Linked DNA regions of Homo sapiens: regions 2 and 3 are each linked to region 1. The links come from fine-mapping of genetic effects on gene expression. A gene starts in region 1. Each other region holds a variant in brackets. All regions are shown on one strand. Distances are between the middles of the regions. Region 1 holds the start of XKR8 (XK related 8). Region 2 overlaps EYA3 (EYA transcriptional coactivator and phosphatase 3). Region 3 has its middle 14 kb from the start of IFI6.

Region 1 (4,239 bases):
ATCTATTCATTATGTAAATATTTACTGAGCGTCTTCTATGTGTACCCTAGCATGGTGGGACCTGGGGTAAACCTGGGGTCCAATCCTGCTACCACTGAATACCTGTATGAATACCTGTATGACCCTGGCCAAGTGAATTAACCTCTTTAGGCCTCAGTTTCCTCATTTGTGAAACCTAGGTAATAAGCGCAGTTACCTCATTCGATTCAGAGGATGTCTGCCAAGCACAATGGGTGCACAGCTAAGTGCTCAATAACTACTAGTGGTCATGGTCACTGCTCTAAAGAACTTGGGGGCAAATGCAAGGTGCAGGATGGGGATGGAAGCAGACAACTGCTCACAGCCGGTCTACCCCAAACCCTTTTTCCAGGACATGGTGACCTACTTCATGAACCTGAGCCAGGCGAATGCTCAGGGGACGCCGCGCTGGGAGCTCGAGTACCAGCTGACCGAGGCCTATGGGGTGCCGGACGCCAGCGCCCACTCCATGCACACAGTGCTGGACCGCATCGCTGGCGACCAGAGCACACTGCAGCGCTACTACGTCTATAACTCAGTCAGCTACTCTGCTGGGGTCTGCGACGAGGCCTGCAGCATGCAGCACGTGTGTGCCATGCGCCAGGTGGACATTGACGCTTACACCACCTGTCTGTATGCCTCTGGCACCACGCCCGTGCCCCAGCTCCCGCTGCTGCTGATGGCCCTGCTGGGCCTGTGCACGCTCGTGCTGTGACCTGCCAGGCTCACCTTCTTCCTGGTAACGGGTAACGGGGGCAGCGCCCAGGATCACCCAGAGCTGGGCCTTCCACCATTTCCTCCGCGCCTGAGGAGTGAACTGAAATAGGACAACCGAATCAGGAAGCGAAGCCCCAGGAGCTGCAGCCATCCGTGATCGCGCCACTGCACTCCAGCCTGGGTGACAAAGCCAGACTCTCTCCAAAAACAAACCAGAAACAGAAAAGAAATGACGACCCAAGACCCCCCTACAAGCATACTTCTTTTGCGTATTATGTTTAACTCACAAAACAAAGCTCATCATGCGTTTGATTCTGTGTTGTGTTCCTTTTCTTTTCTTTTGAGACGGAGTCTCGCTCTGTCGCCCAGGCCGGAGTGCAGTGGCGCTATCTCGGCTCTCTGCAACCTCTGCCTCCCGGGTTCAAGCGATTCTCCTGCCTCAGCCTCCTAGCTGGGACTACAGGCGCGCGCCAACACGCCCGACTAATTTGTATTTTTAGTAGAGACGGGGTTTCGCCATGTTTGCCAGGCTGGTCTCGAACTCCTGACCTCAGGTGATCCGCCCGCCTGGGCCTCCCAAAGTGTTGGGATTACAGGCGTGAGTCACCGCGCCCGGCCTCTATTCCCTTCCGTATGGAAATGAGGTTAACTCATTTGCAGGAACCTAACGCCCGCCCTCCCCCGACTCGGATCGCTGGCGTGAACCCAGCGGCCCCGTGCTCTCCGGGTATCCCTGGATCGAGGCGCACGCGTTGTTGCAAAGTCTCGCACTTAGGGATTAGAATGTGCCTTTGCGTTTCGTTTTGTTTTGCAACAATACAGGTGTGAGGGATCGCAGCCCTGGTCCAGGCTCTAGTCTCCCCGCCCTCTCGCTTTCTTGGGCCTCCGGGCGCCTCAAAGGTAAAACTAGGCCATTTGAAGCCTGCGAAGCGAAGGGCAGTCGGTCTTCAGGCCTAGCGGGCTTGGCTGGGCTGGGTCGGTGGACCCCTGGGCTGGCGGCGGGAGCAGAGCATCGAGCGGCTTTTAGCTGGGGTTCGGGCGGAGGACCTGGGACAACCGCGGGCCTCGCTCCTCCCCGGACGGGGCGGGACGGGGAAGTCCCGCCCACCAGGCCCAGGCCCCGGGCCGCCCCGAGGGCTGCGCCCACCTCCTTCCTGCCTCGGCAACCCCGGGCCCTGAGGGCAGGCCCCAACCGCGGAGGAGCAGGAGAGGGCGGAGGCCGGCGGGCCATGCCCTGGTCGTCCCGCGGCGCCCTCCTTCGGGACCTGGTCCTGGGCGTGCTGGGCACCGCCGCCTTCCTGCTCGACCTGGGCACCGACCTGTGGGCCGCCGTCCAGTATGCGCTCGGCGGCCGCTACCTGTGGGCGGCGCTGGTGCTGGCGCTGCTGGGCCTGGCCTCCGTGGCGCTGCAGCTCTTCAGCTGGCTCTGGCTGCGCGCTGACCCTGCCGGCCTGCACGGGTCGCAGCCCCCGCGCCGCTGCCTGGCGCTGCTGCATCTCCTGCAGCTGGGTTACCTGTACAGGTGAGTGCTTCGCCCCGGGAGGGGAGGAGTGTCGGAGCCCAGCACCTCCGTCAGCTGGGTCACCTGTACAGGTGACACGCCATATGCCGGGAAGGGGACTGGGAGAGGGAACCAAGTCCTGTGGGCGCCTGGCCTACAGGTGAGCGTGCAGCCCTTTACGGAAAGGGAATCCCGGTAGACTGCCTTCATTCTAGCCCTAGCTTTCCTGGCACAGGCGAAGAAACTGAGGCCCAGGGAAGAAAGGGAGGCGCATGGGCTTTGAAGTCGGACCTCTCAGGGATCCACTTCTGGCTTTGCCCCCTCTCGCCTCACTTCTGCATTTCTCTGAGCCTCAGTTTCCTCCTGCGTAGAAAGGAGGTAGTCACCCTGAGACAGGTGTGACGGGCAGGCCTGTTGTGAAGAGTGAGCGAAAGAATGAGAAAGTGCCTCGCACAGTGCCTGGCCTGTAATGGCAGGGGCTGCGGACTCAGTTCAGCATCCCATGTTTCAGCATGGGCAGGGCCTTGGGAAGTCACTGACCTCTCAGTGGGGCTGTTTGGTTGCTGTTCCCATTGGGATGGGGATAGCGCCTGCCCGTTTGGTGAAGATGCAGTGAAATGACATCTGTCCACTGCCCTGGCTCAGAGTGAGCACTCAGCAACCTCAGCTGGCTTCTTGACCTGGGCCTCCCTGGGAGTTTCAGCAGCCCTGACCCCACCACAGCGCTTGCCCCTCACAAAGGCCGCCTCTCACCCTGTCTGCCTGGTTGTATTCTTCCCCCTGAAACTTGGCTTCCCACCCCAGACCCAGCAAGAGGGCAGAGATGGCCTCTGACTCATCCATGCCCATGGAGCCAGCCAGGGCTGGGCATAGGCTGGGTCCTGGAAAATGTGTGTGGATTCTGCTCCTTTTTGGACCTGGTGGAGCCTCGTAGAGATGGGAAAACAAACCCAAGGCTCAGAGGCATGCGACAAAGTCAGGGCAGAGGGTGGTGTGGGTTGGGATGGGGTGGCCAGGGCCAGGATCTGCTCTTGAATCCGTTTTTACAAACTCTTGAGATCTGGCCTTGACAAAGCCACACGGAGTCTCCAGGAGTGGAAGAGAGGAGCTTTGAATGTGGCAGTTTTGCCTGAGGGATTATAGAGACATCAGAAAACCCCGGGTGGGCATGAAGGGGTGCAGTTGTTAAGTCCTGGGCAGGCCTCCATGAGCCGTGAATCTGTAACTACCTTATGCATCTTTGTGGCCAATATTTCTGCTGAGCTTGAGTCAGACAGACTGTACTAGCTTTGGCTTTGGAAATGGGTCTCTGTTCCTGCCTGTGAATTGGCCGAGGCAGGGGTCCCTGCTAGGTCACTGGGGACCATAGGCAAAGGCTCCTGCTGAGGGAGAACCCCAGCCTGTCCTGCCTGCCTGCTCCTCAGTGTGTTCTTGTGTCCTTCCAGGGGAAGTGACAGTACATGTCTGGTGAATGAGCTTGTGATGAGTGAACGGGGTTCTCTCCCAATAGGCAACTGAGAGCAAAGTTCTGGGTGGAGGGTCCTTGGTGCATCCTCCACTTACTCTTCATGCCAGTGGGTACCCCAGACCTGTCTGTCCAAACTCTGGACTCTCTTAACTCCGCCCCAATCTCCATCCTTAACCACTCAGGGCCAGCCTCTTAAATGGGATCCCTCCTTCCAATCTAACCCTCCTCCAGCCCCTCCCCTGTGTGGCCGGGGCAAGGCAGAGTCTGATTCCATCTGGCCTGTGCCCAGAAGTGCCCAAGAGGCAAATGTCCTCTTGCCCACAGGACCCCAGGAGATCTTGGGCACACTAAAGTTTGAGAACTACTGCCTCAGGCAACTTTATAGCATGCCTTTCCAATTCAGGTTTGGATCCAAATCCTCATTCCAGTACTTATTAGCTGCTTATAATTTTTTGTTTGTTTTTTAAAAAGAGGTAGGGTCTGGTCAGGCTTGGTGGCTCATGCCTGTAATCCTAGCAGTCTGGGAGGCTGACGT
Region 2 (4,239 bases), 50 kb after region 1:
TACCCAAACCAACCTACAAATTCAACGCAATCCCTATCAAAATCCAATAGTAGTTTTTTAAAAAAATAGAAAATTGCATTCTAAAATTCTTATGAATCTCAAGGAACCCCAAATAGCCAAAACTGTCTTGAAATAGAACAAAGTTGAAGGATTCACACTTCCTGATTTCAAAACTTACAGTAACCAAAACAGTGTGGTACTAGCATAAGGATAGACATAGAGACGAATGAAATAAACCGAGAGTCTAAAAATAAAGCCTTACAAATATGATCAATTTTTCTTTTTCTTTTTTTAGTTTAGTTTTTTACCTTCTTTTAGTATTTAACCTACAGCCAACATCATAAGTTAATTTTTAATAGGATGCCAAAACCATTCAATAAGGAACGTCTTTTCAACAAATAGTGCTGGGAAAACTGGATATCCATATGCAAAATAATAAAGTTAGACCATTATCTTACACCATATACAAAACTAACTCAAAATGGAGAACAGCCTAAATTTAAGAGCTAAACGATGAAAATCTCAGAAAAAATACATAAAAATCTTCATAACCGTGTATTAAGTATTACACCAAGAAAACAAAACAAAACAAAAAGAAACAACAAGTATTAGACCAAAAGCACAGCAATAATAGAAATCAGACTTCCTAAACATTAAAAATTTTTGTGCTTCAAAGCACAAAAATTGAGAGAGTGAAAAGACGACCTACAGAATGGGAGAAAATATTTGAAGATTATATATCTGATTAATATAAGGGATTAATAATCTAGAATATTCTAGAATATTAATATAGAATATACAAAGAACTCCTACAACTCAACAATGAAAAACCAAACAACCCAGTTTAAAAGTGGGCAAAGGTTCTCATGCTTGTAATCCCAGCACTTTGGGAGGCTGAGGTGGGTGGATCACCTGAGGTCAGCAGTTCAAGACCAGCCTGGCCAACATGGTGAAACCCCGTCTCTACTAAAAATACAAAAATTAACCAGGCGTGGTGGCATGTGCCTGTAATCCCAGCTACTCAGGAGGCTGAGGCACAAGAATTGCTTGAACCTGGGAGGCAGAGGTTGCAATGAGCCGAGATTGTGCCACTGCACTAGGGAAATGCAAATCAAAGCCACAATAAGATACCACTTCACATCCATTAGAATAGCTATTATCAAAAAAATGGGAAATAACAAGTGTTGGCGAGGATGTGAACAAACTGGAACCTTTATGTATCGCTGGTAAGAGTATAAAACCGTGCAGCCACAATGAAAAATAGTTTGGTGGTTTCTCAAAAAGTGGAGCACAGAATTACAATAGCATCCAGCAATTCCACTCCTACATATATACCAAAAAGAATTGATAAGATGAACTCAGATAGATAATTGTACACCAATGGTCAAAGCAGCATTACTCACAATAGCACAAAGGTGACAAACCCCAAGTGTCCATCAACAGATGAATGGATAAACAAAATGTGGTATATACATATAATAAAATATTCAGACATAAAAAGGAATGAAATTCTGGTATGTGCTACAACATGGATGAACCTTAAAAACATTATGGTAGGCAGGGCATGGTGGCTCACGTCTGTAATCCCAGCACTATGGGAGGCCGAGGCAGGCGGATCACGAGGTCAGGAGTTTAAGAACAGACTGACCAACATGTTGAAACCCTGTCTCTACTAAAAATACAAAAATTAGCCAGGCATGGTGGTGTGCACCTATAATCCCAGCTACTCTGGAGGCTGAGGCAGGAGAATCACTTGAACCCGGGAGGCAGAGGTCACGGTAAGCCGAGATCGTGCCACTGCACTCCAGCCTGAGACTCCATCTCAAAACAACAACAACAACAACAACAACAACAAAAAACCATTATGGTAAATGAAATAAGTCTGGCACAAAAGGATACATTTTCTGTGATTCCACTTATATGAGATATCTAGAATAAGAAGTCAAAGACAGAAAGTAGAATAGAGGTTACCAGAGGTTAGAAGAAGGGGAGAATGGGGAGTTACTGCTTAATGGGTACAGAGTTTTCATTTGGAATCATGAAAAAGTTCTAGAAATATACAGTGGTGATGGTTAGACAATATTGAGAATGTATAATGACACTAAATTGTACACTTAAAAATGGCTAAAATGGTAAATTTTATGTATATTTTAGACAATTAAAAAATGAGTTATCAGTTTTTCCTAAGAAATATATCAGAAATTTACTTTTTCTTTCTTTCTTCTTCACTCCAAACCTCTGAAAAAAGAGAAAAGGCTTCAAATACAGGCTCAGTTCACCTATGTCTTAAGAGCACTTATCAATGGATTCATAGTTAAATATGTATTTTCCCCTCAGTACATAATAGCACTATAGAAAAACGGAAAACAGAAAACAAAAAGATAATACAAAAACTCCACTAATTTTAGCACTCTGCATGACCTTTATGTCTTTAATGATGAAGTCAAATGTATGTCCATAATAAACTCATATAGTACTTACACTACAGAATAAATCAGCACCAGTCTCATTAATAAGTTACCAGATCTGTTTGCGCCTTAC[A/G]GAAACTTGGCTAAAAGCACTCTAGTCCTTTCCTTTTAAATTTCTTTTCTTTTTGAGACAGAGTCTCACTCTGTTGCCCTGGCTGGAGTGCAGTGGCCCGATCATAGCTCACTGCAGCCTCAACCTGCCAGGCTCAAGTGATCCTCCCATCTCAGCCTCCCAAGTAGGTGGGACTACAGGTGTGCAGCTAATTCTTGTATATATATATTTTTAGAGATGGGGGTCTCACTATGTTGCCTAGGCTGGTCTCAAGCGATCCTCCCGCTTCAGCCTCCCAAAGTGCTGGGATTACAGATGTAAGCCACCGCACCTGACCCTTTTAAAATTTTAAATAGAGAACAGTATGACTTTACTTGTAACTCCCTCTGCTTTCTGAATATGATGAATTGTTTCTGTTCTCTTCTGGAATATACAGAATAATTTGTTCTTTTTACATTTTTCTTTTAACGTGGCCAATTTAGTTTATTTTGCTCAGGAATTAAAGGGCACATAACATAGTGCACATTATCTCTGTGAGCTTCAAAAACATGTTTGATAAACTTAAGAAGTGAGAAAGAACAAAGTAGGTAACTAAATCAGTTTCTTCTCATACTTCTAATTCACTGTCTTGGGAAGAAGTGGCATCAGCTTTCCTCTTGCCCCGGTTCTTGCTAGTCATGTTTTTCCTGGACTGATCATCAGTATCTTTACTTGGTGTAGTCTGGGACAAAGATGGACTTGTAGAAGGGTCTCCTGGAAAGAAAAAGTGAAACATATGTTGTCAGGAGTCACAGGCTATAAGAATCAGGGCAGGAAGAGGGTTAGTGGACTCTCTGCCCTTGTGAGTCATAATGCAGGGATAAAGGTTGGAAAGCTAAACCTTATGTAAGCAATTATGAAGTGTACATCTAGGCATTGAGCATCAGCACTGGCTAACATCAGAAAAGTTATAACCAGACTTTATATGCTTACCCCATGATAGAAGAAAATATCAATGAAGTTGTTTTGCCAAGAAAAAGCTGAACCTGAATCTTCATGGTCAAACTTGTAGATTAGAGTTTCTCAACCTGGCACAACTGACATTTTGGATCAGATAATTATTTGTTGTGGGGGGATGTCTTGTGCATTATAGGATGTTTGGTTAAGCAGTATCCTTAGCATCTACCCACTAGATGCCAGAAGCACCGCCCCACCTAGTGTAACAACCAAAAATGTTTCCATACATTGCCAACAGTTGAAAACAACTGTTCATTCACCAATTTACTATAAAATACAGAAGGCAGCAGGACATGTTAAACCACCTTATGAGGATATAACTGTCAAAATTCAGACTGGGAAACAGTATGGGATCAACACTCCAGTTTCTTCAACAAACAAACTACAAGGGGGAGAAAAAGAGACGGGAGGATTTATAGGTTAAAATAGAGATGAAACACAAAATACCCATAATTACCAATCACAATTTATGGACCTTATATTTGGATCCTAATTTTCCCTCCTCAAATTTTCTATTTATTTATTATTTCTATTTACTAATGCGATAAAAACTGTATATGCTTTATGTTGTTTTGAAATATGTATACACTGTGGAATGGGTTGGATCCTACTTTAAACAAAAGGGAAACAAAACTCATAACATTTATGAGAAAGCTGGAAATACAAATACATTTTGGTACTTGATAATACAAAATTAAGACATTATTAATATTGAACTTTTAA
Region 3 (4,239 bases), 270 kb before region 1:
CAGAGACTCTCTTTGGTCCACCCAACCTTCAATAGTGTTGTATTAAGACATTTATTTTGGCCACGCGCAGTGGCTCATGACTGTAATCCCAGCACTTTGGGAGGCCGAGGCTGGCAGATCACCTGAAGTCAGGAGTTCAAGACTACCCTGGCCAACATGCCAAAACCCCATCTCTACTAAAAATACAAAAATTAGCCAGGCGTGGTGGCAGGTCCCTGTAATCCCAGTTACTTGGGAAGCTGAGGCAGGAGAATTGCTTGAACCCAGGAGGCAGAGGTTACAGTGAGCTGAGATCATGCCACTGCACTCCAGCCTGGGTGACAGAGCGAGACTCTGTCTCAAAAAAAAAAAAAAAAAAAAAAAAAAGACATTTGTTTTCACTGCATTAATTTCCTTTTTTAAAACCTCATTAATTTTTATTTTACTCATCCTATTTCTTAATAACCATCTAAGGATTTCCATCCTGCTCAGACGAGTCTCATGACTCTCCCCTTTCTTTTTCCTCTTAGTTTCACCCTTATCAGTGTTCTCTTCTTTCTCTCCCTCCCTCTCTCTCCTTTCTTCTTTCCTTCTCCTTCCTTCCTTCCTTCCTTCCTTCCTTTGCTTCCTTGCTTGCTGGGGGACCTGTTTATTTACAGCAGCATTTTAGGAAAAGGGCAAACATGGCTCTCTCCTTCAACAAATCCCTGCTTTGGTGCCCAAGGAGACAGGGCTGAGGTAGCCCCTGCCTGGCCCTTGGCTCTGTGGAGCCCTGCACCCTTGGGAGGACAAGGTAGCTCCCCAAAGCTGTTAATTCCAAAGCTGTTATTTGCAAGGGATAGAGGGACCTTGTTTCAACACCCAGCATGTGGGTCAATTTCTGGGGAGGCTGGAGAGGACCATGGCCAGATGGTGCCTTGACCTCCGCATGTCCAGACCCACCAATGGGATCTCCTCCCAGGGGCTCTGAAATCCTGAAAAGAAAACCAAACGCACTGAGTGAGGGTCTTATGCTTCCCTTCATAAGAGCCATGACACCGCGGCAGCCCTGGTGCAGAGGAGGGGCTGGGACTCACCCTCCCCGCCTGCCACCTGTCCTTTCTACTTTGGCAAACAACAACAAAACCCTGGAAGCTTCAAGAAAATGAAGTAAACTTTAGGGAACAGAAAAAACAAAACAGCAGGCTGTGCCCAAAGCCCTCTCTCTGCCGTCCCCCTCTCCGAGTCCTCCTGATGAGCTGCAGCTGGTGGTGCCCGCGTGGCCACAGCACAGGTTTTCCTCACAGAGCCACTGGCCCAGCTGAAGGTGACTCTCCTAAGCTCCCTTCACCAGCCACTCTGGCTTCCACGCTGGGAAGGTAGGATGGGGTGCAGTCGGGGGAGGCACCCAGTTATTTAGAGAGACAGAAGAGATTGGCACACAGGCAGCATCACCGAGGAGGCCCCACGCACATGCTCAATTCTGGCCAGTGCATGGACAGACCCCCTGCTGAGGGGACACAACAGCACAGCCCATGTAGCCCAAGGCACCTCCAGAGGTGGCAGATGAGCAAGGATGAGGACCCCAGGGTGGAAACTCCTGGATTTGGAGCTGGGCAAGTTTCTGTCCCCATGGACTGGGCAGCTTTAAGAACCAGGGGAGCTGAGGGCAGGAGGCCCAGGGAGGCTCAGCCAGCTGTCAGGAGCAGCCCAGACCCCACCCCTAGAATGACAGAGGAGGAAGAGGGGGAGGGTCATCATCTGTAAATGCCACCAAGACAGTGTTGGGTGGCACCTGACGTTCCCCAGCACACACGAGCCACTGGTGCCTCTTCAGGCTGTGTCCGTTCACATGGTGGGACCTCCTGCCCATTGGTGGTAGGGGCAGGGTGCGTGGAGAGGCCTTCTCCAGGAGCTGCCTGGAAAACAGGGCAGCCCTGACCCCCACTGGCTGACAGTGAGCAGCATGTCTCCTATCACGGAGTCTGAAGGTCCCCGCAGTGTTGAGCAAAAGTTTACATGGCACCCACTGGCCAGACCCCATCGACTCCACAGAGAGCAAAAGAGAGCCTGCTGACCTCCCAGCTGTTGGCCCCAGAGTCACAGAAGTCACCCCTACTCAACACCAGGACACAGATCC[A/G]CCGCCCAACCTAAGAAAACAGGAACAACTCCAGGGCCACCTAGGCCAGGCAGGTGAGAGGAGCTGGGCGACAGTAGCTGCCAGCTGCAGCTCTGCAGGATCAACAAAAAGGCAAGATGCCGGGGGGAGGGGAGGAGGCCAGGAGCCTTGCGGCACATCACAGAGCAGAGGCGGTGCCCACGGCAGGGTGCGGCTAATTCCTCAGGGCGGCTAACGCCCTTGACAGCTGTTCCTCCTGGCTTCACACGGAGCTCTCGCCCGGCAGAGGCACCCTTGGGCAACTGGCTGAGCTGGTCTAGGACCTCCAGGCCATTCTCCTTGGCGCTCTGCACAATGGGTCTGTCCACCTGCTCCTGAGGCATGGTCAGTGTGGCGGCCGAGCTCATGGAATCCTCCATCACTAATGTGTGCATGGCCAGGTTTTGCACTTGCTACTCAAACCTGTCCATCGCTGCAGAGGCCTTCTGCAGGTCCGTGGTGTTCAGGCCTTGTCTGGGGCTTTGGTCACCTACACCATGTTCTTGGTTACCACCTTCATGGTCACAGCTGTCTGCACCTCGGGGGCCACTGTGTCCAGGCGGATGCCATGTAGAGCCAGTTCACGCTGCTGTTCTCCTTGCAGATGGTGTTCTTGGTGTACACACGGGTGCACTCTACATTTTTCTGCTGAAGGGACTTCTTCACTTTGGCCTGGTTGGCGTAGGAGTGCTTTTCTGCCTTCTTGTCTGGTTTCTCCAGCTGCTTCACCATAAATTTCAACTGGAACAGGGTATTGTCCCCTGGCCAGTCTGACAGAAGCACCCCTTGGAAAGGCAGAAGGGACATGAACTCCGGGAGGCATCAGGTGCCAGTGGCTCTTGCCTTATTTCTTAATAACCATTTAAAAATGTTTGCCTTCGTGGGAGAAATCCTTTGATTCTCCCCTCTCCCATTACCTATTCTCTTGTTAGTTGCCTTAATGTTTTCATTACCATCCGTAAGACCCAGGAGGGGAAGCTGAGGTAGCAAATTTGATAAGGCTTCTCTGACTATAGCTCAGTTTTGCAGTAGTAAGGTTACATGAGGTGCCCATGCAAAAGAGGCTGCCTGAACCACAGCATTTATCATGACCCGGGTAATAGGCATTGTCATGCAGGACTCCTGTTGACTCCAATAGGGATGGCACTGTGTCCTAGAGGCCGGAACCAGTGAATGAGACTTAGGGTTTACTGAGGGGAACTTACACACAGGGATGGTCCAGTGGTGGTGGGCTGGACAGGAGCATGCATTTATGAAACAGGGCATGCGTTTTATGAAACGCATGCAGTTGATACAGCATTTTCACTTAGCACCTTCCACCTAGCAACCTCTACCCAGCAACCTCCAGTTAATCCACAAAAAGGGACTCCATCCCCTGTATGGCCTGTGTTCCAAGGAATGAGCCAGGGGCTCAGATGTCCTTCATAGATAAGGAGTGAAACTCTGGGTTGGCCACTCCCGGATTCCTTAGCTCAGGACTCCGAACACACATTCTTCTTAGACCCTAGGATCATTCTCAGGGTACGCTTCAGTTAAGTTATGGCTGTCAGCTGCATCTGCCATATACAGGCATCCTTAGCGGGTGAATGCCTGGTCATTGTAAAGCCAGCTCCACATGGCTTGCATATGAAACCTATCAACTGCTTCATCTGGGGTGTTCCATTTGACATTTATAGGGAATGTAGGGGCCAAGGGAAAAACTTCTCCTTTGCCCTCTCAAGGATCACTGTACATTCAACCCACAAAATGCAGATTAATAGAGAAATGTCATACAAATTTATTAATGTGTACATGAGGGAAAAATCACAGAGTGCTTACCCAACATCCCAATGAGGCCCAAATACTTCTATAGCTTTATTTCAGAGGGGATGGGGGAGATAGGGAATATAGGTAATTCTGTTGAGGGACAATAAATGATTACTAGGGAGAATGAATGGGTGGGGGCGGAGGAATAGAGATTAATTTATAAACGGGCTGGGCATAGTGGCTCACACCTGTAATTTTGACACTTTGGGAAGTCAAAGCAGGAGGACTGCTTGAGGCTAGGAGTTCAAGACCAGCCTGGGCAACACAGTGAGACCCTATCTGTACAAAAACTTTTAAAATTTGCTGGGCTTGGTGGT

The links. PIP is the estimated chance that this variant, and not a neighbour inherited with it, causes the effect. A credible set is the group of variants that fine-mapping cannot tell apart.
Region 2: its variant is the best candidate, but not a certain one, in a credible set for the expression of XKR8 in tibial nerve (GTEx, PIP 0.83).
Region 3: its variant is the best candidate, but not a certain one, in a credible set for the expression of XKR8 in whole blood (TOPMed, PIP 0.89).

What each region holds. Positions count from the first base shown.
Region 1 is chr1:27,958,106-27,962,344 of GRCh38, forward strand. XKR8 (XK related 8) reads left to right here and starts at 1,868. Exons shown (of 3, transcript NM_018053.4): 1 at 1,868-2,257. The coding sequence starts at 1,965. It overlaps SMPDL3B (sphingomyelin phosphodiesterase acid like 3B), which reads left to right. Exons shown (of 8, transcript NM_014474.4): 8 at 371-1,047. The coding sequence ends at 733. RefSeq lists a silencer at 1,739-2,128 and an enhancer at 1,809-2,372.
Region 2 is chr1:28,007,814-28,012,052 of GRCh38, forward strand. EYA3 (EYA transcriptional coactivator and phosphatase 3) reads right to left here. Exons shown (of 18, transcript NM_001990.4): 10 at 3,134-3,273. Among named protein-coding and RNA genes, the nearest start is that of XKR8, 50 kb to the left of the region's middle. The variant A/G (reference allele first, on the strand shown) is at 2,542.
Region 3 is chr1:27,684,518-27,688,756 of GRCh38, forward strand. It overlaps the pseudogene CHMP1AP1. Among named protein-coding and RNA genes, the nearest start is that of IFI6, 14 kb to the left of the region's middle. The variant A/G (reference allele first, on the strand shown) is at 2,099.